Homo sapiens: one gene and its partners. The protein of the gene in region 2 interacts with the protein of the main gene of each other region in a pairwise test. Each region holds a gene or a part of one and is shown on either strand. Other genes may lie near its edges.

Region 1 (7,147 bases), on a different chromosome or scaffold from region 2:
CCATGGCCATAATGCCTTCCTCTTCTCTAGGGGCAGGTCTCTTGCCTGTGTCATCAAATGTGATCTACCTTTGGTTTCTCTGTAGGATTTATAAAAAAAATTACTATGTAAGAAATGTACTGTCAGGATTTTGGTTTTAGAAAGTGGGATCAAGTGGTACGCTGGAGCTAACTCTTATAACTCACAAGAGCCGATTTTTCACATCTCTTTCCAACTCCACATTCAGTGACATCATATTGTTTGCTTGAAGTTGGCTATTGTGGGAGTATTTACACCACAGAAATTGGCTTACACTACAAACTGGAGGGGTTTTCCCCCCAGAGAGCTAATTTGCCGGCATATCTCTGGTTGTGTATTTATCCACATTGCTTAAGAATCTATGATTTTACTTCATTGTTTCAGCATACAAATATCTTTGCTTGGTGCTACTGTGTTTCTCATTACCTGCTTACATAATTAAACACACATGGATGCAGAACCTACTCTGTAGCCGGGCTCTGTGCCAGAGTCTGGGGATATGGAGATGAAAGAGGAAAAAGCAATGAGACAAACTCCCTGATGTCCTGGAGATCCCAAGTCCATGGTGGGGAGCTACCACCTCTGATACAGCCACAGTTTCCCAGGGTGAGAAGAGTGTGTCAGCAGAGGGAGAGCAGCCTACCTGGGAAGCCAGAGAAGGCTTTGCAGAGAGCATGAGTGAGCCCACACAGCTCAATCTATCTGTGACAGAGAACGGCCACTGAGCTGTTTCAGACTCAGCATGTTTCATAATCATGGGTTTGTAATGAGCAACAGAAAGCAGTTCAATATTTTCCACAATGAGGATCTTTGACCTGTGCCAAAGATCTGTTTTTATTCTGGTTGAAACAGAATTCTATATTTTCTTCCCTTCTTAGGGTCTTGCTTCTCAAAGATTTTCCAACTCTTTCTAATTCATCTTCTGGAGTCTCTTCCCTCACTATTGCTTGCCAGGGCAGGGTGAGCCTCCTGAGCTACTCTCCAAGTGGGTCGATTGCAGTGAAGCCTGGAGCAGCAAATGATGCCATCAGAGGCAGGTGTGAGGCTCACAGGTCCCAACGCACGGGCCCCGGTTTCTGTGCCTATGTGCAGAGGTGGAAGCTCGTGACTGTCATCCACAGGAGAGGATAGGACTTGTTTCCCACACTCATGCCAACACTGTGTGCTATTATCCAACTTAGCAAAACCTGATAAGAAAACAATATCTCTTTAGTTTGTATTTCTTAATCACAAATGAGCATACATTCATATATAGATAAAATCATATTTAATTTGAACAGAAGTGTACCTTTTCCATTCATCAAAGCCTCAGGAGTTGGATACCTAGAATAATACATTTATATGCTCAGCCTCTTCTCTCAAGAGTCTTCATGGTTTCTTGATCTAGGATTGTTTGGGACACCATTTTCTAACACCCTGGAGATGTGGCAGCACTAACTCTACATATAGTACTTGTCATAAATCTTTGCATTCACTGCAATGTGTGATGGGTGACGTTCCCACACAGGGCACAACTCCCTAGATGCCTCCCTGCATCTTCCAGCAGTAGGAGCCATGACACAGAAAAGATAAACTTTGAGTTAGGCACAATCTCCAGGTGCTAGCCTACAGCTCCATACCTTTCTCTCCCATTGGTTGAGATATGCCCCTATGTATCAAAATTAGTGAAAATGGCATTCCAAGACCACAGCTCCTCACCTCCATTTGCAGTAGACTTCATGCCTCTAGAGATCGGCATGTCTAAAGTCAGAATCCACACAGAGAATGTTGTGCACACAGGTGAATGAAGGAGGGCAGCAGGCTCCCATCTCTCACACTCTGTATTCATCACTTCTTGTTACTGAACCTGGCCTCATATTCGGTCACCAGGGGCCACAGGGACTCTTTTTAAAGGGTTGGGAAGGAAGAGAGTCTTAGGATCCCCACCCGCTCCTTCACCTCCTTTGAGAAAATACAAATCAGGGGAACAAAGCGATTTTACAAAGAGCCATGCAACATCAGTATCATTATGCAAAACAGTACAAGGTAGAAGCCCAAGCCAGGACCCAAGCCAGTTGGCAGAGAGGGGTGTCATCTGGACACACAAGGCTTCAGCAGTGATGAGTCATGTATTGTGAATGGACGAAATCGTGGCTTTTAGTCCATGGAATGAATCTGGGCAGAGGATAAAGCCAAAAGATGGGTGCTACTTAGCAAATCAAAGGAAATGACTTTAAAAGCCTGGCTCTCTGATTTATAGAGAAGCTTGTTGCTATGTGATGAGGCGGAGGAGAGTAACAAAAGGGTGTTTGAAGATGTAACATATGCAGATTGCACCCAGTGGCCTCTGGAGGATGGGACAGCCTGCCCTGGTGATGTCTCCCAATGATGTTGTCTGTAAAGGGTTATGGATTGGTGAGCTCTGAATAACCCTTAGGTCAGCGCTCACTACTACTTACTTTCCTGAGAAGCCCAATCTGGACTGAATTCTCAGATTCTGTATTTCTTCTTGATAGAACTCCAATAGCCTGTGTTTCACATATGCACGTCTGATCCCTATAGAGGTGTATGTTCAGCTTTTGTTCAATGCTCAGGGGACTGGCAAAAACTCATTTTCCCAAAATTCTAGTTATAATCACTTTGGATTGTTCCACATTAGGTTTTTCTTAGTCTCAGGGGTCTATGTATCTTCTGTCACAAATTTTGGGAGAAAAGTTTTGGGATCTCAGCAGCCATGTGTCTTGGATCCCTAGTACCAAGAACTATCTGAATGTGGAATGTGTAATATAACCATTTTAGGGACAGGACTTTCCCCTGGCATCTTCTGATTTAGCCCTTGGAGAAACTCTGTTTTATTGTATGAATACCTCCACATCTGTATTTTCTGAGATACAAAGGGAAAAATACACAATGTCAGATTTTTGTTTTACATCTTAATTTCAACTTCTTGCCCGGTTTCTAGGAATTTGAATCCTTCTTAGTTCTAGCAATGACACAGTAGTTATCCTTGGGGTGGAGGATTTGGAGGTGGTCAAGGTGAAGAAACAGTTTCTGGAGTTGAAAGAAGCTGATGTTGAGAATAGGCTTTATACTTTATAGTGAGGTTGATCTTAGAAAACTGTCCTCAATGGCTTGTTTATTTATTTTGTAAAATTAAGAGTACCCACCTCCCAGGTTGGAAGTAAAGATTAAAAGGTATCATTGCTCAATCCCCTAGCTCATAGGGTGAAGGCTCATGACTGACTTTAGAATAAAGGAAGCAAGGTATGAAGAGAGCCCACAGAGGCTCTGATCACTCAATGTCCTTTGACTTTCATGACCAAGTTCTTATTTGAGGTTCAGTAAGATTATTGCTCATTTCTCTTTGTTTATTTCTGGCTTCTTGAGCTTGCCCTTCTTGGTCGAGATAAGCCATGGTTTTTGGAGTCATCCTCATTTTCATGAGCTTCTCAGATACCTTGTTTGAAACATCACGTCTACCCAAGTTACAGTTGTTCCCCAATGGCAGGAACTATTTTGTGCTTAACCAACTATATATCAAGCATCAGCAAGGTGCGTAGCATATGGGACGTAGCCAGGGGATGTGTTTTGAGTGACTGGATTCATCTAAGTCTTGTTGCTCCTCAAAGTGAGTCTGAAAGGCAACCAACTAAAGAAAGAAGAAATGTAGGACTTCTTGATAACCCAAGGCCATAACATCCACCAATTCCAAGACTCAGTTTCTTCCCTGGATAGGGAAGGCTGGTTGAGTCTTAACCCAAGTGAGAACCATTGTCATCACCGGGGTTAGTCCTCCTGCTACACCACTGACCAACAGGAAAGTTTGTGTCTCCAGAGTGGACACATCCATAAAGAGGCCAAACCCAGTCAAGGTCTAAGCATCTGATGGCTATAACTTTGCTTCTTTGAAAGATAATAAAAAGCTTCTGACCTCCCATCAACAGCCAACCTGATTTCAAAGAGCCAAGAGGCCTCAGATTCGTCAACATTCCTTTAACGAGCTGAGAAACTTTTCATGGTAAACTCAGCAGCTGAGTAACAGGATGATGGCACCACAACAGGTAGATAATCAAGGCAGGAGGTCAAAGCATTGGAGCCAACACCCGCCCAGGATGGGGTATAAAAGGGCTGGGAGGAGAGGAGGCTTCAGTCTCAGTGGTTCAGCTTTCCCAGCTGATCTGAAGCTCCTGTGCAGCCTCAGCCCAACACCATGACCTCTTCCTACAGCAGCTCCTCATGCCCTCTGGGTTGCACCATGGCTCCTGGAGCAAGAAATGTCTCTGTCTCTCCCATCGACATTGGGTGCCAGCCTGGGGCAGAGGCCAACATTGCCCCCATGTGCCTTTTGGCCAACGTGGCACATGCCAACCGAGTCCGTGTGGGGTCCACTCCCCTGGGCCGCCCCAGCCTCTGTCTGCCGCCTACCTGCCACACTGCTTGTCCCTTGCCAGGGACCTGCCACATTCCTGGCAACATTGGAATCTGTGGGGCCTATGGTGAAAACACCCTGAATGGCCATGAGAAGGAGACCATGCAGTTCCTGAATGACCGCCTGGCCAACTACCTGGAGAAGGTGCGCCAGCTGGAGCAGGAGAATGCGGAGCTGGAGGCCACACTCCTCGAGAGGAGCAAGTGCCACGAGTCCACCGTGTGCCCCGACTACCAGTCTTACTTCCACACCATCGAGGAGCTCCAACAGAAGGTGAGGTGTGGGATCGCTTGGGTGTGCTGGGTCTGAGATGGCAGAGGCAAGACAGGAGGAATCCATGTAAAGCTCAGAGAACTTTGGGTTCTTGGTTTCTCTTGGACATGATCATAGACACCACACGTGGAGAAGGAGCCTAGGGCATGATGCTTTGTGTGTGAACTGTCTTCCTGTTCTCCTCAGATCCTGTGCAGCAAGGCCGAGAATGCCAGGCTGATTGTACAAATTGACAATGCCAAGCTGGCTGCCGATGACTTTAGGATCAAGTAAGTCAGGCGGAGGAGGGCCAGGGTGACTCCTTCCCCACCCTCCATCCCAATGCCCAAATACTTGTTGAGTGAGGGAATCATTGTCATTTCTTCCTTGCTAGATTCTCTACAGTAAAATTTTCATTACAATCGAAGCTGATGGAAGATGGAAGGGAAAACTCCTCATTAATCCAAGCATATATGTTTGTCTTCCTTCATTTATTTCCCTAAAATGGAGGATAAGGCAGCCTGAGTTCATTAACCAGGAGCAAAATGAGGTGATTTGAAGGATGAACTGAGCAAGACAGCCATTGGGTTTCATATATAAGTCAGAGGAGTCACTTACAGATGAGTCTTTGTCCAGATTTAATTAGGGAGCCCTAAGGTACCAGGTATAAGGTACCTAGGCAAAAATGAGAGAGGGGAAGACAGCTGAAAGCAAGGGATAAGGAGCCGCAGATCACGATCAGGCACCTGGTTATTGCTTATCTTTGGTAACTGACAGCCCCTGCAATGGCATGAGCGTTGGACTGGGTCCCAAGATGCATGATCTTACGCAAGTCAGTTGATCTTCCTGAACTGCAGTTGCCACAGAATACAATGGCAAAAATGTATATTGTGCAATGTAGTGTTGTGATTTCTCCATTAGACCATGAGCTCTTTGAGAAGAGGGGCTGGGTCTAATTCACCTTTGAGGACAGAGGGCTAAACAGAGTGAATAAATGAGGATCCAAGGTGGTGTGGGAGGTAGGAAGCCAGGGCAGCCGAGAGGGGCTCTTGGGGGCATTCTTTTTGACCCTGTACCTCCTGTGATGAAAGGCTGGAGAGTGAGCGCTCCCTGCGCCAGCTGGTGGAGGCAGACAAGTGTGGGACACAGAAGCTCCTGGATGATGCGACCCTGGCCAAGGCCGACCTGGAGGCCCAGCAGGAGTCCCTGAAGGAGGAGCAGCTCTCCCTCAAGAGCAACCACGAGCAGGTGTGGCCCTGGGCGCTCAAACTCCTGGGGAGGGCACTGGGCAGACAGGGGAGCTCCCCAGCCCCGGGCTCTCAGAGCATTGCCTGGCCTCAGCTGGCATCAGGATGCAGGGCTGAGGTGGGTCTGAGGGTCCAGAGGGCCTCTGTGGAAAGTGCAGACTTGCCTTGGGCATGAGGAAGGTGTGCAGGTGGGCTCTCCCGAATGCCCTCTGGGCAAGACTTTCCCATTTGCTTGTGTGTGGGACTCCCCTCCTACTGCTTGCCAGGGGCGGGGTCCTGGTGCTGTCTGCTCCATCAAAGGCCCTTTCCTCATGCAGGCTGTCTGTCCCTTCCTCCCTTCTGCAGGAAGTAAAGATTCTGAGGAGTCAGCTGGGGGAGAAGCTCCGGATTGAGCTGGACATTGAGCCCACCATTGACCTGAACAGGGTGCTGGGGGAGATGCGGGCTCAGTATGAGGCCATGTTGGAGACCAACCGCCAGGATGTGGAACAGTGGTTCCAAGCCCAGGTGAGTGGGGGGGGTATAGAACCAGGGGGTACCTGGCCTCCATCTGGGCAGGGAGGTGACCGTGTCTCTCTGTGCTCCAGTCTGAAGGCATCAGCCTGCAGGACATGTCCTGCTCCGAGGAGCTGCAGTGCTGCCAGTCGGAGATCCTGGAGCTGAGATGCACGGTGAATGCCCTGGAGGTGGAGCGCCAAGCCCAGCACACCTTGGTACGTGTCCTTCACTCTCACTGCACTGCAAATGCCCCGTGCCATGGCCTAGTAGCATTTTATTTTGGAGGTCTCACTACCCAAGTTTCTCCCACCTGTTATCACCATCAAAATTTGAGGCATGTAGCAGTTTCCCTTGGGGCCTTGTATATTTTATCCCCTTATTTCCCACTACAGAAGGACTGTCTGCAGAACTCCCTGTGTGAAGCCGAGGACCGCTTCGGCACGGAGCTGGCCCAGATGCAGAGCCTCATCAGCAACGTGGAGGAGCAGCTGTCTGAGATCCGGGCCGACCTGGAGCGGCAAAACCAGGAGTACCAGGTGCTGCTGGACGTGAAGACCCGGCTGGAGAATGAGATTGCCACGTACCGGAACCTTCTGGAAAGCGAGGACTGCAAGTACGTGTGATCTGGGCAATTCCTGGCCAAATTATTTACTCAATTCTGATGAGGTCCTCAGGGCAGCAGAAGGGCTGTCTCTATGTAGAATGAGGCTCTCTGTGCACTCCT
Region 2 (7,818 bases):
CTAAATATCCTATACTGCACAAGACAGGCCCCCACAACAAATCACCTGACTGAAAAGGTTTGTATTGCCAAGGCTAAGAAACCATTTTTAATTTTATGCCTACAATGGCATAAAAGAAGAAAATCAACAGAGAAAGATCTTTCAGAACTATCAGATTAATCAAAACATAAATGCAGAGACAGCAGTATACTAGATTCTAATTTTGATTGTGAAATTGGAAATCTCAAACTCTTGAGTCTTCAGAGGACAAGTCTAGATTAGTTTTCTGAAACTTAAGTATCAATGACTGAACAAAATATTTCTAAGGACAAAAAAGAATTATGATATCCTCACCTAGTCATTCAACATGAAGACCTTATTATACAATCTTTTACAACAAGAATCTGAACCAACTTATTTTGCTAGAAGGACTTGTGATGGTAATGTTAATCTTTTATGATATTTGTGCCAAAAATTTATTTGAAATGATTCATATGTGGACACATGCTGATGGCAGATACGCAAATAAAGGTGGATGAAAGAAAAAATATGTAAAAATTAAAAATGCATCAAATTATTCTAACTAGTGTTTAGAAATCTAAAAATGAAAATATTTTGCAATTATGAAGCAAAGATGACTGACTTCAACAAAATTGCATGCTTTCAAAGTTCACAAAAGTATCAAGTTTTGACTATGCAAATGCAAGAAGCACTAAGAGTAACGATAAGCTAGCACCTATCAGAGAGGTATTTCAAACTATTTACAGCTAACACCAGTCTAATCTTTAAAAAATTAAATATAGGTCAGTCATGGTGACTCACACCTGTAATCCCAGCACTTCATGAGCCCAAGGCAGGAGGATCACTTGAGCCCATGAGTTCAAGACCAGCCTGGCGCAATACAGTGAGACCCTGTCTCTACAAAGAAAACACTAAAAAAAAAAAAAATTAATTACAGCCGGGCGCAGTGGCTCATGCCTGTAATCCTAGCACTTTGGGAGGCCAAGGCAGGCGGATCACGAGGTCAGGAGATCGAGACCAGCCTGGCCAACATGGTGAAACCCTGTCTCTACTAAATATACAAACATTAACTGAGTGTGGTGGTGCATGCCTGTAATCCCAGCTACTTGGGAGGCTGAGGCAGGAGAATTGCTTGTACCAGGGAGTCAGAGGTTGCAGTGAGCTGAGATTGCACCACTGCACTCCAGCCTGGTGACAGAGTAAGACTCCGTCTCAAAAAAAAAAAAAAATTTAATTACAAAACAAGATGAATCATATGTTACTTTGCACAAATAACTACTTAATCCTTAAGTAATGAGCTAGCTACCTGGTACATTAAAAATGTGATTAAAGTCATCTAATATTTAAGCACATTTATAGTGCACAAAGATTCTTCCTTACTCTTTAATAAAATGGAAGAAAATCATTTGTGGAAACTAAAATTTCTTTAGTAAGATTTCAGAATACTAGGAAAATACTATTAGTTTCACTGTACACTTTGAAATTAAATCAAAAAGAAATTTGAGGCAAAACCTCAAAACTGCTATAACCTCTGTACTTTACTAGAACTGATTTCAAGGCAAAATGTTTGCCAAGGACTTTCTGAGAGATGAATAAATGACAATGTTCTGAAAAACAGAAGAATCTCTTGAGTTTGATAGTACGATTCATAGCTTAAGGCTTTTAAAAAAATAATAGTGAAATAAAATTAGAAAAATGCTATACCTTAACAGACTGCAAGATGCTAGTCCCATGCTCTGTTTCAATTTTGCAATTATCACCCTCAATACTTTGAACTTCTACACAGCCAGACCCTGATGACTTGATATCTAAACCTAGAAGTAAAAAAAGAAAAAAGCAAGTTAGTACTGCAGTTTATAAGCTCCAAAGCATTTTAACCTAGAAACCCAACTCCTCAGTTATGTCCATAATATTGCTGAATCCTGGAAAGTGCATACTGTAAAGGTAAGGGGTCTTCTACCACGGCAACGGGACCAAATACAATAGCCTTTCTGCCCGTTTTTAGAAACAGAGCAGTTATTTCTACTGGCCTAAATCACCTAAAGAGAACTAACATAGATGGGAAGTAAAGGAGACTACGATTCTGTTAAGTACTCCTGTGAAAGACTGTAGAAGCCTCTTCCCCAGTATATATGATCATGACTTAGGTTTTCAAATCCTATGTCTAACCTTTCATACTTAAAAAATGAAAATATTACCATGCAACTATATCACAAGGTATTTGAAGTAATTTTTTAAAAATGGGAACAACTTTGAAAAACCTAATATATACTATTAAAACTACAAGATTAGGCCATGAGCCGTGGCTCATGCCTGTAATACCAGCACTTTGGGAGGCCGAGGAAGGAGGATTGCTTGAAGCCCAGGAGTTCAAGACCAGCCTGGACAATGTGGCAAAACTCCCTTTCTACAAAAAAACAAAAACATTAGCCAGGCATGGTAGCATGCACCTGTAGTCCCAGCTACTCAGGAGGCGGAGGCGAGAAGATTGCTTAAAACCGTGAAGTCAAGACTGCAGTGGGCCATGATTGTGCACCTGTACTCCAGCCTGCATGGCAGAGTGAGTGAGATGCAGTCTCAAAAAAAACCAAAACAAACAAACAAAAAACCCCACAAGATTGTGGACAAATGGCAGTGGTACATGAAGCAAGTTTGGAAAATAAGGAATTACAAATGCCATCCTTGGCTGTCTATTTAAGATGTAACTGCAGGCATCGCTGTATACAAATTTTAAAAATTAAAAACGCTGATATTTAATTTGGAATTAACATAAATATTGATGATTTCTCTTAAAGTAGGCAAGACCCGCCCCCCCGACTTGATTCCTGAAACCACAAATAGTACCAAATCCTATATATTCTATGTTTTTTCCTGTATACATATCAATGATCAAGTTTAATTTATAAACTAGGCATAGTAAGAGATGAACAACAATAATAATAAATACAGCAATTATAACAATATACTGTAATAAAAGTTATATTACTGTGATCTGTCAAAATATCTTAATATTTTCCTACAACAGTTGAGGCAGGTAACAAACTCAGACAGCCAAACGGTGGATAAGGGAGGACTACGGCATCTACTATTTGGGCAACTGTAAGCATTATAAAAGATGATCTTAAAAATGCTAAATGCTATTATTATTACCATCATCATCATCATCAATATCTTCCTTCAGTCCCAGGAAGAATGACAGTCTGGGGAGCCCTTCCTAGAAAAGTGTGTGTACACAGTGGCTTGCCATTTAGGAAAACCTAAGAAAGGTATCTTGCAGGCATTATTATTGAAGCTTCCTAGGCAGGCTTACCATGTGTTTTTCTTCAAAGCTTGCTACTCATGGAAAACTTAGGCCAAAAAGAATGGAAACATAACAGTAAGAAGCTGGGCGCCCGTCTAAAACCAAATACTCAAACCAGGTGGTACCTGGAACATCCTATTGACAGGGCTGTTTTGGGACACACCCCCAGGCTGTGAGCAAGGGGAAATGTAGATGGACTGCCATACCATTGAATGAATTGTCAAGAAACTTCAACCTTGAAAAATAAGCCAGTTTGCTAATGACAACGGGATAAAGAAGAACACAAGCGGCTCCAGAAATAGAATTTGACCTGGATTATACCAAATCGTGTTTCCATTCGATGTATAAAATTTCTATAATTGGGAACCTAATTTTTTAAATACTACTCGGATACTCAAGAATAGAACAGAGGAAAAGTTGCATTTCCGAAGGGGCCAACTGTAAATTAGGTTTAGAAAGCCAGGACCAATTAAAAGTGCACGTCGACCAAATTTATTAAGTTCACTGTGCGTTCCCTGGGACCCAAACCCGTTTTCACTTCACTTCACTTGCCAAACTTCAGGGGCGCGTTCACCTCCACGGACGCCTGGGGGTGGATAGTATCAGACACAATGGCCATCTCCTCCAGATCCTCGTCGTACTTCACCTGCAGGCCGTCCAGGCCCCGCACGCCGCCCTCCACGCCGCACACCGCGACCAGCACGCGGTCGCCATCCGGGTAGGTGAGGGGGTCCAGGGGCCTCACGGCCAGGTGGCACGGGAGCCGCGCCCGCAGCCGACCGAACGGGCTCACCTGCAGTGTCCACTCCTTCAGAGTTCGGCGCGCCGGGCCAGGCGGAGGGACCTCAGTCTCCGATCCGGGCCAGCGCTCGCCCCTACCTGAGCTGTACGGCCTGGCTTGGCAAGCCCAGCAAGACCAGCGCCCAGCGCCAGCCCACAGTCGGACCTGACGGAGACAGAGACGGAAGCAGCCAAGCTCCCAACCTGAACAGGGGGCAAGCATGGCGCGCCTCTCTCGCCAGTCCTCAGAACACTTCAGCCACAGGGAGGGTCACTTGCCACGGCCAATCGACTTGGCCACTGTGCCGCCTCAAGTCAAATAGGAGACGTAAGTCAGGGTTTGCTGAAACAAGAGCGAGCCGGTTGGCTTGACTAGGCGATGTAAACATCAGCTGCGTAATCCCCAGGGGCAAGTTGGGATTTGAAAGCTCTGAACTCTGACCTGGACCCCTTGCCTAAGTCCACCCCCTTTCGCTAAGGCCGACGGGATACGTAGTTCTAAAGCGGTGGAAAGTCGCAGAGCTCCGCCTCTTAGAAACCACATATCCCAGGAGGCAATGCGCAGGGGAGCACGGGTAAGAGGGCAGGTGTTAGAATCGCTGGAAAGGCGGGCGCCCTTTGTTTCAAGACCATTGGCTATTGGAGGGGCGGTACATGGGAGGCCACTGGCCAATGGGAAGCACGGAAGGGGGCAACGAGGGTAAAGCTGCATGGTCACCTTGGATACCAAGGACGCGACTTCTTGTTTGGAGAGGGTGGAGCTTTGGAGTGAGACCCAGGAGGCCAAATCCCAAAGAGAAAAATAGGAGCCTAAATAAGGATCAGGACCAAGGGAAGGGGTAAGAAACTGCGCTTTTTAAGTTGACAACTAGGTGCAAACTAGGAGTAACCTATGTGGATGTCAAGATCCAAGCTTCACTAACCTAGTGCGGGCATCTCCAGGGCATGGAGAATGCCTTGGTAAGAGAGTAAAGAGCAAGATTGGTGCTTTTTGAGGGAATTGCCTCTTTGGAAGTGTATTCCCTCCTATATTCCAAATATAGGAATAGAGTACTTGCTCCGTCCTGACCCTAAGTGACCTTACTTTGGGTTTTAATTTGCTCACTTTAAAAATGTAGATGATAATACCTTCCTTGCCTTGCCTCAAAGGGTTTTTGTGAGGATCAAGTAAGAAAATGGATGGGACCGTGGTGCACAGTCTACCAAATTACCGTGTAAAGTACTGTATTTTTATTTCAACGTACTTAACATTGATTCTGAGTTACCAAGAAAATTATGAGAGATCAGAACTTGTTTTGAGAATAGCATTGATCTCTTTGACTACAAATGATCATCAGTTTTAGAGTGAAAAAAAAAAAGACACAAAAAAGAGAGTCACCATGGTGCGGTGGAAAGAGCAGGGACAAGGGTCAGATTATTTTCCTGGCTCTGCCACTGCTTCATCTGTGTCACCTAGACCTGTTTCTTTAGTTTTAAAATGAAGAAAGATGGTTCTAAATGACCCTATAAGGTGTGTGTGTGTGTGTGTGTGTGTGTGTGTGTGTGTGTGTGTGTGTGTGTGTGTTTACCTTTTATAATTCTATGGGCAGTAAAATAATGGGAACAGAAAGATTTATTTTCTTCTTTTTTTCTTCTTTCCTGCCTGGTTTCTCTCTCCCCCTCTGTGCCCCTACTTCCTCCTAAAATGTATTCCCTAAATTATTTAGCCAAGACACCTGCAAACACTAACATTTCATAAAATGCAAGTGCCTTAAAAAATTGAAGCCCTTACCCAAGTACAATGACCAGAATTCTTGGGGCTATCGTGATAGATAGACTGGGCTAAAGTTCTCATGGGTACAAGTCTCAGGTTCTCTGCTAGCCACTACCTTTTTAAAATTTTTAAAAATTCAGTGTTCTCTTAAGTTATCATTGCCTCTTTTCTGTCCTTCTAGTCCTTGCTCCCTCCTTATTCTTCTTTCGGTGAAGACTCACTCATTATAGGTGCTAGCTCAGGTTCAGCAAGGGCCCACTGCAATAGTTCTTTTCTTGTCTTTGTGTTTCATTGGTTATAATTATTCAGAATAATCTTCAAACTATTTTTTATGAAAATTGACAGGTGTAACTTTGAAAAGAAATTTGAAAAAGGCACTGGTTTAAGGAAGTTGAGAATGTACTCAAATTTTCTGTAGAAACACTAGACATTTTTAGATTAAATATTAATTCTTAATAGTTAATTCTGTGTCTATGGTAATTTTTCCGTTTCTGAGACAAACTAAGTTAATGGAATTGGCAACTGAACTATAATTTTCTATGTTGCATAATCATTATTTTACTTTTTCAAACAAAAACCAAATAGAATTGACTGAAAATTTACTTTGCTGATCATACAAGGTTGAAAATGGAGAAAATTATTAATATTAAGATTGGTATAAAATAGTTAAAGTTATAGACACTTAAAAACAGTATAATGAGTATCAAATCTGTCCACATATCAACAATGATTAATAAAAGTTGTATCTTCCATCCATATGACATTATAATTGTCAAACCATGTTCACATGCGTCATCTCACTGTATCCTCACTAATTAGGAGGGAAATTATTCTCCTCACACTATAGATGGGGAAACAGATTCAGAAACATTAAGATTAAGCAATTAGAAGGTCTGGCCCTTTTATCACTCTACCAAAACGTCCATTTTCCTGACACCTTTGAAGAAAAAATGAAATTATTCACCTCATAAGTAGAAAATTATATACAACTTTTTTCTCCTTATTTAGAGTTTGTTTCTAAGATATTTTCACATCTTAGTTTAAAAAAGCTATTTCTGTGGTCATGAACATATACTTCTGGTAGGAGTGTTAAGTTAGCACAAAATTTTTAGAGTTCAATTCAGCAATAAGAATGAAAAGCTTTTTCTATGACTCAGAAATTGTGCTTTTGGGGATGTAAGCATAAAATTAGGGATGCTCAAGGAATTATGTTTTATAGGGTTACTTGTAAGAGAAAATAATTGCATCAATTTAAATGCTCCCTGGCCAGGTGCAGTGGCTCATGCCTGTAATTTCAGCACTTTGGGAGGCTGAGACAGGTGGATCACCTGAGGTCAGGAGTTCAGGACCAGCCTGGCCAACATGGTGAAACTCCATCTCTACTAAAAATTAAAAAAATTAGCTTGGCGTAGTGATGGACACCTGTAATCCCAGCTACTCAGGAGGCTGAGACAGGAGAATCACTTAAACACAGGAGGTAGAGGTTGCAGTGAGCCGAGATCACACCACTGCACTCCAGCCTGGGCGGCAAGAGTGAAACTCTGTCTCAATAAAAAAATGTTAAATGCTCCCAAATAAGACAGTATTACATAAATTAGTATATAGCTGATATATTATGCAACAATTTAAACATATCTTGATATGGGAAATAGTCCATATATAAAGTGAAAAGAATATATACAAAATTGCACGTATAGTATGATCTCAATTGTGTAATAATAATAATAAATTTAACATAAAATTATACTTTACAGAAACAATTCCAGAGGGATATATACCACTTGATAACAGTTGTTATCTTTAAGCAGTGATATGATGAGTGGTTACTGCAATTTTTTGTGTGTTATCAATAGTGAAAATATATTACATTTATAAGAAAACAATTTTAAAGCATTTCTTAGCATATATTGTTTCCTAAAACTGACTCAAATAATCAGATGGGCAGAAGATTTCTTACCATCTAGATATAAATGTCAACGAATAT
Region 3 (7,020 bases), on a different chromosome or scaffold from region 2:
GGGGGGGCACCCAGTTGAAGAAGGGCAGGTGGGAGGGGGTTTGGGGAGGGATTGCCATGGAGGGACCTCAGATTTGGTGTCAGGTGTGGGGAATTGGGGCAGAGGAGGCACAGTCCTGAAGTGTTTCAGGTGGGTCAAGAACAGCCCTGAGCCAGGCGGAGTTGGAGAGAGAAGTGAGGGGCATTGGATGGGGGGGTCCTAGCAGAGCTGAGGGGTCTTAGTGGGAGTGGGTGGGGCGCTGGCAGTGGGGCCCTCGCCTGGGGTTGAGACTGTGCAGCACGAATGGGCCCCAGGGGAGCGAGGCTGGGGGTATCCAGGGTGAGGACTGAGCGAGCAGCTGGACTCTCACATCCAGGCTCAGGGTGGAGGGTGCCAATCTGGGAGGTGGGAGGTGCCGGAACCATCACCCTGAGTAGACTGGCATAGCTGCAGAGCTCTAGATGGAGCAGGCTGTGTCCCCTGCCCTCAGGACTCTATGCTGGTATCAAGTTCTTCCTCATTGATTTCATCTTTAAACGCTGCCCGAGGCTGCGCGCCAAGTACGACACGCCCTATATCATCTGGAGGAGTCTCCCCACCGACCCGCAGCTCAAGGAGCGCTCCAGCGCCGCAGTCTCACGCAGGGTGAGCCCGGCCCCCAGCTGCGGGGATGGGGGGATGGGGGGCCACGAAGCCGGGCATCCCCAGGCCCACAGTGCTCTGTTCACCTCCGGCTCATTTAGAGGCTGTTTCTTCAATTTTATAGACTCCTTAAACTTGAGGGTTTTTTTTTTCCCTGTTACCACTGCGGTTTCTGAGGCTCATCCAGCCCCTCCCAAGCCCAGGGCAACACCTGGGGACTGGCCATGATGACTGAGAGCCAGCAGGCCTGGGAGTGACCACTCCATGGGGGTGCCCGGCCCCTGCCATCCCTGACAGTGAGGCTCTGGCGCTGAGACCAGGCAGTTTGAGAAGGGCCCCCTTGGAGCCACAGCCTGGCACTGGGCCATATTTCATTCACAGTCACAGGCCCTCCAGATGTGCAGCACAGCATCCCAGCCAGGACCACGGGGAATGAGCAGGCCTCGGTGCTCCCTTCGGGGTGGCTCAGATGAGTCAGGAGGGTTGCTGGGCTCTCCCCACTGAGGTGAGGTGGCCCTGCCTGGAAGAAGGAGCCGCTCTGGGCCGGAAGGGACCTCGGGAACGTCTTCCCAAATTTGGATCCCAGCTTTTGGGGAGGTGTGTGTGCGGCCAGCACATCTGGGTGCTGCAGGCGTGGGCAGCGGGCCTGACCTCGACGCTGTTTGCCGTTGGCAGCTGCAGACGACCTCGTCACGGAGCTACGTACCCAGCGCACCGGCCGGCCTGGGTAAAGAGGAGGACGCCGGTCGCTTCCACAGCACCAAGAAGGGCAATTTCCACGAGATCTTCAATCTGACAGAAAACGAGCGTCCGCTGGCGGGTATGTGTGCCGTGAGTCTGAGGCCAGGCCGAGCGCCGACACAGACTGAAGGCCCGTGAGGGGGGCGCTGTGGATGCAGGACGGGGTCGCCCTGTGACAGGCCAGAGGAGCCCTCAGGATGGCATTCACATCCCACTGCCCCAGGAGGAGTGCAGGAGCCAGGGGTCATGAGGACTCTGCGGGCTACAGGGGAGGAGGGCGTGCCCGTGGGGAGAGCCGCCCACGCTGCAGCACTCCCCTGACAGCAGGCGTGCAGGCAACACACTGGGGAGAGAGTCCAGGGCGAGGCCTCAGGGCCTGCAGGGCGCTGGCAGGGGGTCTGCCCCTGGTTCCATCGTGTCTGGAGAAACAAGAGCCACCAGGGGACAGGTGACTCAGGATCCTGGGGACAGGTCAGCTTTCCCAAAGGGAGGGCCTGTTAAACTAAACCGGGCAGCTCGAGGTGTGTGATGAGCGGCTGCAGAGGCAGCTGCGGAGAACGGAGCTTCGTCCTCTGCTGAGCCCTGGCCCTGCCGGTCTTGGTGGAGGTGGTGTCCCAGCGCCCTGACCCTGCCGGTCTTGGAGGTGGTGTCCCGGCCACACTGTGACTTCTGTTGCTCCCTGCTCTGCCTGGGTGCTTTTACTTTAAAAACCCTGCCAGTGCCTGTTGAAGAGGAAACATCTGTTTTCCACCCTCTGGGGCCACCTCACTCTTGCCGGCGCGCCTTCCTCTCACTGTGGGTGTGACGTGAGCGCGGTGGGCGGATGTCAGGATCTGAGAGTCAGGCTCCTGGGTCCCAGCGTCAGGTCAGAGGCTGGGTACTTCCAGTGGAAAGTGTGACAGGCGGGCCTTCTCCCATTAGTGTGCGAGAATGGCTGGCGCTGCTGCCTCATCAACAGGGACCGGAAGATGCCCACGGACTACATCAGGAACGGGGTGCTCTACGTCACGGAGAAGTGAGTGCAGCCGTGGGGCCCTGTGTGGCTGCAGGGGAGGGGGCGCAGGAGGCTGCCTAGGCCCTGGGATGGCGTGGCTGGCCCAGTGCAGGTTTTCCTGAGTGGTGGCCATGGCCTCTCCCATGCTCTGCTCTTGCCGGCTGTCTGGGCTCCCAGGGAAAAGGTGTTGTCTCCAAGCCGGACGTGGCCTGGGCTGTACTGCTGCCATCCCTCAGGCTGGCGGGGATGCTGTCTTCTCTGGGGCCCAAGCAGTTCATGGAGACGAGGGGCAGAGTCTCCCAAGGAGGGGACCGTGTGGGGACCTGCTATTGCTGAGGCCCTGAGTCCTTGTTGCCCTGAGTGCCTCATGCAGAGCAGTGGCCGTGAGTGTCTCACTCAGAGCAGTGGCTGTGAATGTCTTATGCAGAGCAGTGGCCGTGAGTGTCTCACTCAGAGCAGTGGCCGTGAGTGTCTCAGAGCAGTGGCCGTGTCTCACTCAGAGCAGTGGCCGTGAGTGTCTCAGAGCAGTGGCTGTGAGTGTTTCACACAGAGCAGTGGCCGTGAGTGTCTCATATAGAGCAGTGGCCGTGAGTGTTTCACCGGTTCTGTGTCTGCTGGGAAGGGAGCACCACTGTCCATCCCACTGGGGGCTGAGAGGCAGCCCCGGGAGACCCCCACCTGGTGGGAGCGTGCTCTGGTTCAAGAGCCAGGCGACGCCTCTGTCCGTTCCCCTTCCAGTTACTTGTGCTTCGAAAGCTCCAAATCTGGGTCCTCAAAGAGGAACAAAGTCATCAAGCTAGTGGACATCACGGACATCCAGAAGGTTGGTGCACCTACCCACCCCCACTAACCCCCGTGTTTTCTTCGTCACCTGACAGAGGCTGGCGAGGCTTTCCCTATAGACTTCTGCCAGCCTCTGTCAGCATCTGGGCGCCGCGGCCACGCTGGCCGGCCATGGTCCGTTTCCTTGACTTGAGTCCCCATGTCCCTGTGGGTCTGCCCCTGCCCTGGGGTCCACTTGCCTGGACCGTGTGTCTCAAAGTGGAGGGGCTGGGTTGGAGCCCAGGAGGTCAGGACCCAAGCCCCACTCTGGCTGCTGTGTTCCCCTCGTATCTGGGACCCTCCCCATAAAGAAAAGCACAGGGGCCCTGAGCCCCTGCCTCGGATGCAGGTTTTCAGGTGGGAGCTCAGATGGTCGCGCCCGCTCTGGGCATTTTCTCAGCATTTTACCGTAGCATGGAATGAGCAGGTGGGCGTGGCCACAAGTGCCTGTGGTCCCTTGTTTTCTGGGGCAGGGAAGGCTCAGTGAGGCACTGGCAGGCACACTTGGCCCGAGTGGTCAGGGCCCCCAGCTCCCTCCCAGCTCCGAGCGTCCTGGGCATGTCCGCATTGGCACGGCGGGCACTCCCGGCCCCACGGCAGTTGTGGGTCATCTCTCCCACCCGGCTCTGGAAAAAAGCGTGCAGTCAGGTGACCAGAAGGGGTGAGTTCAGGGCTGGGGTCCTTTCCGCCTGCCTCTTGGGATTGGCGGTGCTGACAGATGGCCCTCCTGGTGCCAGGCCCTGAGAGCGAGTTCTGGGGCTGAGTGCCTACCGTCAGCCTCCTCAGGCCGGCTTGTCTCTGACCTTCCTCAGGCCAGCTGGCCGACGGTCTGGGCTGGGGTGGGACAGACCCTTTACAGGTCTGGTGTCTCGGCCACAAAGTGAGGAGGTGTCCACAGGCCCTTACCTTCTGTTGTTTGGAAGTCCCAGGTGCCCGTGGGCCCTGCTGCCTGTGTGCCCAGTGGAGGAGGATGCCCTGGGCCTGTGGAGGGCTGTGCCTCCCTGTCCCCAGGAGAGACCTGTGGTGACGGCCACGCTTTGCCTTTCAGTACAAGGTCCTGTCTGTCCTCCCAGGCTCAGGCATGGGGATTGCCGTGTCGACGCCATCCACCCAGAAAGTAGGTGCCGGGCGGGGGGCCGCCAAGGGGTTGGTGTGGGCCCAGGGGCCTGACTCTGAGCAACCCTGGGACCAGCGTGGGGCAGACAGCCAGAGTTTTAGTTTGGGCAGCAGGGTCACAAAGCCGCCCCCTCCCTCGCAGCAGCTAGAGCCTGGGGCTGCGTCCAGGTTGGGTTGGAAATCTTGCTGGGGCCATCGAGTCACCGGACAGACAGGGATGTTGGGCACAGGGGTCCCCTGACTCAGTGACTTGGGAGGAGGGAGGCACGGGGCTAAAGCCTGGCTCCCCTCTGCCTCTTGGCTCTGTTCCCCTGAAGGCTGGAGCCTGGCTCCGGGTGGTGGGGAGACACCTGTCTTTTGCACCCAGACCCACGTGACTAGCGTGCTGGCCTGGGGCTGGTGTTGGACTTCGTCTCGGTCCTGGTCCTGGCGCCAGCCTGGCTGTGCCATGCTCACTGGTGGCATTTCTTCCCTGCCAGCCGCTCGTGTTTGGTGCCATGGTGCACAGGGATGAGGCCTTCGAGACCATTCTCAGCCAGTACATCAAGATCACCTCAGCGGCAGCGTCTGGCGGGGACAGCTAGTATTGACTTGCCCAGGACGTTGCTGGAATTTTCTTTTTCTTTTTCTTTTTCTTTTTTTTTTTTTACGATTTGGTAGTGGAAACAATTGGACATCCTCATGAGCTTTTGCAATAATTCTCCTGGACCTGTGGTTCTATTGTGTTGACCTCTGCGTTTTATCGACCAAGAAGGGGCCAGGGCTCACAGGGACGGGGGTGCCCCTCTCCCACAGGGCACGTCAGGTGCCTCTGAGGGCCACCCGCAGACTGGGGGAGGGGGCAGAGGCCCTCGGGGGCCCGTGGAGAAGACACACAGGACCCCTGGCCCTGCCCTTCTCCGTTCCAGCCTGGACAGAGAAACCTCTCCAGCCACCCCAAGAGGTTCTCGCAACCTTGTGTCCCGCTCTCCAGAGGCCAGAAGCTCGTCCACCACCAAAGCCATAGCTGAAGAGTGCGGGGCCCTTCCTCCTGGGGACAGAAAGATGTCGTCAAGGAGGGACATGGGGGCCTTTCACCAACCACCGAGAAACGGGCCTGGCGGCCCTCCTTCCTCTTACATGAGACCCTCCTGTGGCATTTGCCCTTGGTGCCGGGCTGGGGCCGGGCGCAGTGACCCTGCCTGCGCTCCACACTCGCTCCACGGGAACAGAGAGGGTGAGAAGGGCCCACCCCTCGCCTGCCCTCAGTGTCTTTGGTGGCACCTTCCTTGCTGGCCTCCAGGGCGCTCAGCACCGCGTCTGTAAGGGCCTGCCTGCTGCTCTCGGCCTGACACGCCGGCCAGGAGGTCTGTAGCTGGGGACCAGTAAGGGCACAGGATGGTGCAGGTAAAAGCACATCTTTCTCACACTTTGCTCTTTGGAAGGCCCAGGAGAACATCCGCGAAGGCTGTTGGAGGTGCTCCGAGCACTGTGGCATGTCTGGCACATGGCCCCCAGGCTGCGGTTGCCTGGGTTGGTTGGGGGAGGAAGTGGGGAGGAGTGTTCCGGGACCATGGTGGCCCAGGCTGCAGCCGCCTTTGGGCCATCCGAGAGGCTCTGGCAGCCCCTGTGCTTTAGGGAGCAACCGTGAGCCGAGCCCAGAGGCCTGGGCCTGCACTGCCTGCAGCCGACATGCGACAGCGTTCCCTCCCCCGCGTGCCTAGCCGGTGCCGGTCCGGGCACAGACCCCCCCAGCCCCCGCCCTGCCCCAGGGAAGCCTGGGCTTCCCGGGAACAAGGTGGCATTTGTGGAGGGAGCGCCCGCAGGCCTGGTCTGCTGGGGCCGCCTGCGCTGGGCTGAAGGGAGGGAAAGGCGGCTTGGGCCTCCTGGAAGGAGGTGGCCACCCCGCGGGCCTGCGTGTCTGCTGGGGCGGATCCCGCAGCTCCCTCAGCTTGTCCTGAGTCCCTTGGGTGTCGTTGAGATTGTTGTTTTTTGAAGAAACAGAAGATTCTATTTTTTACAGCGAGCAAGCTGGTTTTCTTATTTTTGTATCCTTTTTCAGATGTAATTTTTATCTTTGCTCCGATCCTCATTTGCTGGTGTGGGTGAGGGATCCGGCGGCATGGGCTGGTTTCACCCCCTTCACGAGGGGCCGCAGAGTCACACGCTGGTGCCGGGGGTGCTTTGGGGGGAGCTGCGCCGATCACCAGATTAAGCACATGTCCTATCCCAGGCGGTGGAGCGGAGCCCCCGTGGCTCTGGACTGCGCGGACGTTGGCGTCAGGATGACCACACGGCGGCCTTTCCCGAATGGGGACAGAACCCGCTCTGAGCCGTGGGTCTGGCTCCTGTAGGGGACTGGCTCTCTTGGTGCACCAGGGGAGGGGGACATATCCCAGTGAACCCCACCTTGGCGCCTGAGGCAACACAGGGTGGGCACTGACCCACCCCCAGGGGCGGCTGCAGAGGCAGTGCCCGCAGACAATGGCCACACCTCTCTCCCCAGGGCCCGGCAGTGCCCAAGGATGGGTCCGGGGCCTCGGGGCCAATGAGCGCCTCTTCCTAGGTGCTGGGATTCAGTCCCCAAACACAGCGGGAGGGGTCCCTGGGGCAGATGGGGCTTTACCAGCGTCGGGTGGTTTAGTTCGAGTCCCTTTTGTGGAGAAAGGGAGATGAAAACTGACCACGTGCCAGGTGTGGCCGAAGCCCCCAGGGAGGGCCACATTCGGGGAGCGGGGGGTCGGGGG
Region 4 (7,995 bases), on a different chromosome or scaffold from region 2:
GCCCACCTTGGCCTCCCAAAGTGCTGGAATTACAGGTATGAGCCACCATGCCTGGCCAGATTTTCTGTTTGAACGAATATTGCCGGCATAATAACTTCTGGTCAAGTTTATTTATAAAGCTGCTTTTTTCTCTGAGATCCAATCCCTTACAACATTTGATGCCAGTCTTTTTAAACAGGTCCAGGTCCTGAAGGGTATCCAGATTATCACATAACTTTAAAGTGTGGAGGAGGCTTTTTGACTCCTTCTTTCAGGAGGGTGTAAAGATGCATATCCTCCAATGATAGTGAGCAGCATGTAGATTTTAGTATCTTGTTACATTTTTATTACTTATTTATTTTAGGGACAGGGTATCACTCTGTCACCCAGGCTGGAGTGCAGGGGCACAATCATAGCTCACTGCAGCCTCGACCTCTCTGGCTTGAGATCCTCCCACCTTAGCCTCCCAAGTAGCTGGAACTACAGGTGGGCGCCACCATGCCCAGCGATTTTAATATCTTGACAATGAGGCTTTATTGTTGAAACTGACTATAATGGAACAGAAAAAAATTCTTCCTAAAAATTTATACCAGTGGCCGGGCACGGTGGCTCACACCTGTAATCCCAGCACCTTGGGAGGACAAGGTGGGTCGATCACGAGGTCAGGAGATCGAGACAATCCTAGCCAATATGGTGAAACCCTGTCTCTATTAAAAATACAAAAATTAGCTGGGCATGGTGGCACACACCTGTAGTCTCAGCTACTCGGGAGGCTGAGGTGGGAGAATCACTTGAACCCAGGAGGCGGAGGTTGCAGTGAGCTGAGATCGTGCCACTGCACTCCAACCTGAGTGACAGAGCAAGACTCAGTATCAAAAAAAAAAAAATTATACCAGTGGCCTAAAAGTTTTCAGATAAACATTACATTAATAAAAGCTGAATATATGCCTTGATATCAATTACGCAATTACTACATTACTAATATATATATTATTAAACAAAAGAAACTGAAAAGGGCATCAAAGATCTCTTTATTTCCCATATGCCAATAATTCATCTCTACCACCTCCATCACCTTCCCGGCTGCACTCTCCCTTATGTAGAGGGCCGTGCTCTTGACTTTGCTGAAAAGAATGACTCTGGGTGAGGAGAGGAAGCATACTCATTCAGAGAGCAATTTCTGTTCTCATTACCACCCTCCTCGCTCCTACGTGTATTTCATCGAACCTCTCCTAATGCTCAGAGACTTGTGGAAGATGGTGACGGTGACTCATGGTGCAAGTGATGCTCAGCGTTCAGTGGCTTGCTGCAGGTCATGACAAGTGTGTGGCCAAGCTGGAATCAGAGCCCACGTCAGTCTAACTTCATCCATGAGACATGATGCTTTCCTCAGCCTGTGAACTTTGGCAAAAATCCGAAGTTTATTTGCTCAGGATTCACTGATTTCAGTTAAACCAGCCCGTTCCTTTTGCTGAGGGTATTCTGTCTGGTGAAAACCGATAGGGCTTGTCCCGGTGTTGTAATAGGTGAGGTGAAGGTGACCTCTTAATTCTGCTGGAATTGTTAGGAGGATTATCTTCCTTACAAAAGAGTGCAAGCAAACTGAACATGTTGGGTTCAGATAAGCATGCACTGACTTACAACAACAAATGGGTAACTGTGCTATCATGAGGTCGACCATAATGTTTGATTCTTTTTTTTTTTTTTTTTTGAAACAGAGTCTTGCTCTGTCGCCCAGGCTGGAGTGCAGTGGCTGTGATCTCGGCTCACTGCAACCTCTGCCTACCGGGTTCAAACGATTCTCCTGCCTCAGCCTCCCAAGTAGCTGGGATTACAGGTGCCCGCCACCATGCCCAGCTAATTTTTATATTTTTAGTAGAGACAAGGTTTCACCATGTTGGCCAGGATGGTCTTGATCTCTTGACCTTGTGATCCAACTGCCTCGGCCTCCCAAAGTGCTGGGATTACAGGCATGAGCCACAGTGCCCGGCCCCCATAATGTTTGACTCTTAATTTTTTTTTTTTTTTTTTGAGACAGAGCTTTGCTCTTGTTGCCCAGGCTGGAGTGCAGTGGCGCGATCTCGGCTCACTGCAACCTCCACCTCCTGGGTTCAAGTGATTCTCCTGCCTCAGCCTCCTGAGTAGCTGGGCATGCGCCCACGCCCGGCTAATTTTGTATTTTTAGTAGAGACGGGGTTTCTCCATGTTGATCAGGCTGGTCTCGAACTCCGGAACTCAGGTGATCCGCCTGCCTCGGCTTCTCAAAGTGCTGGGATTACAGGCGTGAGCCACTGCGCCTGGCCTGATTCTTAAGTTTTAATGCTTTCTTAAGCAAGGAAGAAGCAGTTGAACATGACTTCTGGACCTCTTAGAGCTGTGGGAAGTAAACCAGTGAGAGCCAAGCCCCTGCTTCTAATGGAGCAGCCTTGGAGAAAAGGAGCCAGAGAGAAGCCACACCTTCCAGATGAGTGATAACACTGGGACCACAACCAGCACACCCCCGCCTCCAGCTGTTCTTTTCTGGAATGGGAGGAGGTGGTAGTCTCCTGCCGCAGATTTGGTCCAAAGTAACAAATACAGCCTTGTTTGGCACCAGCCATACTCATCCCACCCAGAAGCCGAGAGTATGCCAGCCTGGGGCGAGTGGTGAAGGTGATGTGGCTAACAAAGGGGACAGGACTGTTTTTGTTTTGTCCTGGTTTTTTGAGACCGAGTCTTGCTCTGTTGCCCAGGCTGGAGTGCAGTGGCACGATCTTGGCTCACTACAGCTTCCGCCTCCTGGGTTCAAGCAATTTCCGGCTAATTTTTGTATTTTTAGTAGAGATGAGGTTTCCCATGTTGGCCAGGCTGGTCTCGAACTCCTGACCTCAAGTGATCCACCCGCCTCGGTCACCCAAAGTGCTGGGGATACAGGCATGAGCCAGAGTGCCCGGCTGGGATACGACTGTTATAAGTTCATGAAATGACTCAGGAGAACAATGACTCACTCATTCATAATTGTATTTGTTCTTTGACAGTGAAAAAAAACTACATTTCTTCAGGATTTTCATTTTAATGAAAAGTTTTCCTATGAAAAATCTAACTACCTTAAAATGATCTGTGTTCCTTGTAATGTGATTACTCTAGCCCTATGAAAGCATCTCGTGATAAATTGTCATACAAATTTGAGGCATCTTTTTTGTAAATTGTCAAGCCATTTGATTAATATTTAATAAGGACAAATAATTATAATAAGGAAATATCATGAAATTTGGCACCCGATTCAAATTCCATATCTTCAATTTTCTGCACCCAGTGCTCTTGGTCAATTACTTAATCCCGTGACTTAATCTCTACGTCATCTACTTCATCAGCTGCAGATGTACCTCACGGGGTTGGAGCATGCAACAGGTGGGGCATGTAACAGTAAATAAGGGTTTAGCACACTTTTTTGTAATGTTTTTAGAATTATCTTAAAATATTGACTCTTCTAGAATTAATAATTTAATTATTAATAAATATTTATTTAATAGTAAAACAGGCTTTAATAAGTATTTATTTAAGCATTTAATACTCTAAAACAGGCTTTAAGAGACTTCAAAACCTGACAATATGCTTGATGTTTATTTTCCATTTGATTCAAAGATTACAAAGTTTTCTTGTCAAGATGAGTAAGCTCAAGAGTTATGAAAGCTCAAGGGATGGTGAGAGTAAATGACAGAGTATCTGACAACAAGTATGTGTGAGTATCTTCACAGACGTTGGCCGTACCCAGGCTTAGAAGAGAAAGGAAGATTGGATTAGAAAAATAAGAGAAGTAAAGGAGGATGGACTGGCTGAGGAGGGGAGGGGGCACAGGAATAAATGTGGTCTATTTGAAGAAAGCTGGGGAATTGGGTTTTGGAAAAGAGAGTGGGTGTAGGTAATCATCTGAGATAAGAGAAAGGGTGTATGGCCAGGCGCGGTGGCCAGAACTTTTGGAGGCCAAGGAGGGTGGGTCACCTGAGGTCAGGAGTTTGAGACCAGCCTGGCCAACATGGTGAAACCCCATCTCCACTAAAAATACAAAAATTAGCTGGGTGTGGTGGGCGCCTATAATCCCAGCTACTCGGGAGGCTGAAGTGGGAAAATTGCTTGAACCTGGGAGGCGGAGGCTGCAGTGAGCCGAGATCGCTCCACCGCACTCCAGCCTAGGCAACAGAGTGAGACTCTCATCTAAAAAAAAAAAAAAAGAAAGAAAAAAGAAAAAGAGAAACGGTGTATTGAGATTCCATAAGGTAGAACCAGGTTCTGAAAGATCAGATAAGCAAAGCAGAAGAATTCTCATTATCCTGTCAGCAGCATAAAGAAAAAAACTCCCTGGTTTGATTAGCAGGGGATTGACTGACTGATGCAATAAAAACCCTCGGGGACAAAACTATAAAACTTAGAAAGCTGTGAAGAGTTCCTCCTCACTGAAGCCAAATATCAAGTATGAATTATCTGGGATTGTTCCCTGACCTCCCATCTGTGACAGATTCCATAGGCAGTTATCCCTACTCTTGGTTTTTCTTTCCACAGATACTGGAATGAACACTTCTCCAGCAAACGTTCTAGAAACTAACAAGTCAGGCATTATTTTCTACTAAGGAACAAACACAGTCTTGAGTGTTAGCTCGAAGGCTTCTTTCCTGTGAAATTGTCAATATACACTAGATTCATTAAGAAAGAAAACCCCAAACCTTAAGGAGCTAGAGGTGTTAGGCACTGTACATGGCACTGGAGATAAAACAAGATATTTATCCAACCAAGGTCAGGGCTATTAAGCATTTTCTGGGAGTCCATTAAAAATGTAAATTACGGACCCCACCGTAGATTTCTGGAATCAGAGACCCTGTGAAGAGGCTTGCGTTTTAATAAACTCAGGTGGTTCTAATGAGATTAATTGTGTGAATATGATAAGAAACTTCACAGACGCCTTCCTGATGGTGTGAGGGCGGGGCTGAGGGAGGAATTGAACAGATAAAATCTCTTCAGTCTCCACTGTTCCAGCTTTTTCCCTAAAGGAAATACCTTGGTTCGGTGTGGTGACTCATTCCTGTAATCCCAGTACTTTGGGAGGCTGAAGCAGGCAGATTGCTTGAGCCCAGGAGTTCAAGACCAGCCTGGGAAAAATACTGAAACCCCGTCTCTACAAAAAATACAAAAATTAGCCGGGTGTGGTCGTGCAGCGCCTGTAATCCCAGCTACTCAGGAGGTCAAGGTGGGAGAATCACTTGAGCCTGGGAGCTCGAGGCTGTAGTGAGCCGAGATTGCGCCACTGCATTCCAGCCTGGGTGACAGAGCAAGACCCTGTCTCAAAAAAAAAAAAAAAAAAAAAAAAGGAAATACCCAGGATTGCTACAAAGAAAGTAAGTGAGATTTTCTCTATAGATCATTTTCTTAATAATTGTTTCTTTAGATTTCTAAACTTGATCTTAGAATCTATGTGTGTGTGTGTGTATCTGTGTGTTATCAGGAAAAAGCCTGAAGAAAAATATTAGGAAAAACAAAATAAGGGTAGACAACATGCTGGGGACTTAATTCGTCAATTTTCCTTTGCTGTTTCTGTAAAAATATTTAGTCTCTGTCCCTCTCTCATTACACCTTCAATTTTTACTGGTTTAACATAAAATATCGTTTACAATATTTATTGTGCATCGAGTATGTCAGATGTAGACACAGGGCATCTCAAGGACTTAGTTTCTTATGGATGGAGAGTGACCCACAAGTAAACTTGTTCATAGAAAGATAAAATCTTTTCGCTACTAAGAAAATAAAATAAGGAGATGAGTAGTGGGAAGGTATTTCAAATTGAGTAGTGATGGAAAGGTCTCTCTTGGGAAGACATTTGAGCTGAGAACTGAAGAGAAGAAAGAAGAGGCAGCTGGAATTGCAAAAATATGAGAGAAGAGCTCTGTTGGCCACGGAAGGGGGAAGGGCTGTGATGAATTAGAGGCAGCTAGATTGACAGTGATGGGGGAAAGCTATAGAGAGATCAGAAGAAGGCAGGAGGCCAGATTGTATAGGACGGGGTTATTACCCACTTCGATCTTACTCTAATGCCATAGAAAGTGACCACAAACCTGCTCACTTGGTTTTGGTTTTAAAATAGTATTCTGGTGGTTGAGCAGAGAGGAGCTGGAGATGGACGAGGAGGGCAGGACAGAATATAAATTTGGAAAACAATAGTTGAATTGGTGAAAGGAAGGCTTAAACTGTGGCTCTAAAGGAATGAGTTTGGGGGAAGAGAGCCACTGGGTTGAGATCCTGAGCGGCTTTAGATATGTTAATTTTGAGTGCTCCTTAGACATTCTATTGCAAAAATGTTGGGAATTGGGCAGGAGATTGAAATCGGAGAATGGAACTTAAATCTTCAGAAACGAGTAAGATTACCTAGGGAGAGACCAGGACTGGGAGACCAGAACTCAACCTTGAAGCACCCCAAGATTGAGAGGTTCAGAGGATGTGGGACCAGAAAAGGCCACGGAGAACAAGACCAGACAAGTTAGAGGAATGTCAGCTGCAGACAGATGAGAGAAGAAAACATTCTAGGAAGAAGGGTGTGGTCAGCTATGTTAACTGCTGCTGAGAGCTCAAGGAAAAATTTGAGTTGGTGAATTTCTTTGTTTTGGTGACTCAGTGGAGTCATCTCGGACATGTTCAGGGACCTAAGACACGGGAAACCAGCAGGGATTTCAAAGACCTAAGCAGAAGAAAGGATGAGAGCATCAAAAACAAGGAAGGAGGGAGAAAGTATTTGCAACTCACACAATTTACAGGAACTTGGATCTATAGCTCTCTCTTAAAATTGACCCCTCCCTCCAAAAAGGCCAAACCTGATGGAATAAACTGAGAGAGAGGCTTGAACATAGACTTCACAGCAAAAGAAGTGAAAATGGTTTTTTAGCATATGAAAATAAAAGGCTTAGACATATTAATAATATAACAGATGGAAGTTGAAAATATATGAATACACTATTTCTCACCCAGCCAGTGGGCAATGATCCAAAAGTTTAACATCTTTTTAATTTGTTGCTTGGAGTGCAAAATTGTACAACTTTTGTGCTTGGGAAACTGACAAAACATATCAAAATTATGGATGCATTCATTCACAGTCCTATTTGTGGGGAATATGCCTTTTCAGGCCAAGATTCTCAACTTTTTGGAATCAGTACTCCTTTGCACTCATTATTGACGAAGATCCCAATAAGCTTTTGTTTATGAGCGTTAATATCTATGTTTACTGTATTAGAAATTTAAAACTGCATTTTATAGTTATTCATTTAAAATAATAAAAACAAGCCAGGCACGGTGGGTCACACCTGTAATCCCAGCACTGAGGCTGAGGCGGGCAGATAACCTGAGGTCAGGAGTTCCAGATCAGTGTGGCCAACACGGTGAAACCCCGTCTCTACTAAAAATACAAAAAATTAGCTGGGTGTGGTTTCACGCGCCTGTAGTCCCAGCTACTCGGGAGGCTGAGGCAGGAGAGTCGGTTGAACCCGGGAGGCGGAGGTTGCAGTGAGCTGAGATCGTGCCACTGTGCTCCAGCCTGGGCGACAGAGATTCGGTCTCAAAAATAAATAAATAAGTTAATAAAATAATAAAAACAAAAACATTTTTCTGAGAAAAAAGTTTTCGAGCTAAGTGGCTTTTTTAATAGAGAAAGCCAGAATTACAAAGGACTTAAGAAGGACATTGGGGCCCTTCTTCTTGCCAAAGATGGGCACAACGTCGACAAAGCGCCGGTGGTACCGCACCCGCGGCTCAGCCCGGCCTGTCTTCTCGCTTGGCCACCTTAGCAAGAGTCTGACCTGTCACTTTCCCAGCGCGGGCCGGGGAACCACGGACTTGGCCTCCCGGGCAGTCGGGGCCTCCCACTTCGCCCTGGTCCAGGGTGGCCTCGCCCTGCAGGGACGCGCCTGCCAGGAGCACGATAGATCTTCCGGGGCGAAGCCCTCCAGTGGCGCTGCCTGAGCCGCGACCTGGGAGACCGTCTCCTGGCCGGTCACCTGG

The links.
Region 1: the proteins of CCDC146 (region 2) and KRT38 interact in binary tests that used the Homo sapiens proteins (3 or more experiments, as listed by UniProt).
Region 3: the proteins of CCDC146 (region 2) and GRAMD4 interact in binary tests that used the Homo sapiens proteins (3 or more experiments, as listed by UniProt).
Region 4: the proteins of CCDC146 (region 2) and TRIML2 interact in binary tests that used the Homo sapiens proteins (3 or more experiments, as listed by UniProt).

What each region holds. Positions count from the first base shown.
Region 1 is NC_000017.11:41,437,982-41,445,128, reverse strand, and holds the start of KRT38 (keratin, type I cuticular Ha8), read left to right. Parts: upstream 1-4,145; 5' UTR 4,146-4,207; coding exon 4,208-4,699; intron 4,700-4,885; coding exon 4,886-4,968; intron 4,969-5,769; coding exon 5,770-5,926; intron 5,927-6,270; coding exon 6,271-6,432; intron 6,433-6,512; coding exon 6,513-6,638; intron 6,639-6,815; coding exon 6,816-7,036; intron 7,037-7,147.
Region 2 is NC_000007.14:77,117,813-77,125,630, forward strand, and holds the start of CCDC146 (coiled-coil domain-containing protein 146), read left to right. Parts: upstream 1-4,802; 5' UTR 4,803-4,920; intron 4,921-7,818. UniProt on the Homo sapiens protein: Essential for sperm flagellum biogenesis and male fertility.
Region 3 is NC_000022.11:46,672,374-46,679,393, forward strand, and holds part of GRAMD4 (GRAM domain-containing protein 4), read left to right. Parts: intron 1-469; coding exon 470-624; intron 625-1,002; coding exon of another isoform or gene 1,003-1,125; exon of another isoform or gene 1,126-1,273; intron 1,274-1,296; coding exon 1,297-1,441; intron 1,442-2,283; coding exon 2,284-2,377; intron 2,378-3,094; coding exon 3,095-3,179; intron 3,180-4,226; coding exon 4,227-4,295; intron 4,296-4,773; coding exon 4,774-4,878; 3' UTR 4,879-5,202; coding exon of another isoform or gene 5,203-5,304; 3' UTR 5,305-7,020. UniProt on the Homo sapiens protein: Plays a role as a mediator of E2F1-induced apoptosis in the absence of p53/TP53. Plays a role as a mediator of E2F1-induced apoptosis in the absence of p53/TP53. Inhibits TLR9 response to nucelic acids and regulates TLR9-mediated innate immune response.
Region 4 is NC_000004.12:188,106,596-188,114,590, reverse strand, and holds the start of TRIML2 (probable E3 ubiquitin-protein ligase TRIML2), read left to right. Parts: upstream 1-4,987; 5' UTR 4,988-5,348; intron 5,349-7,995.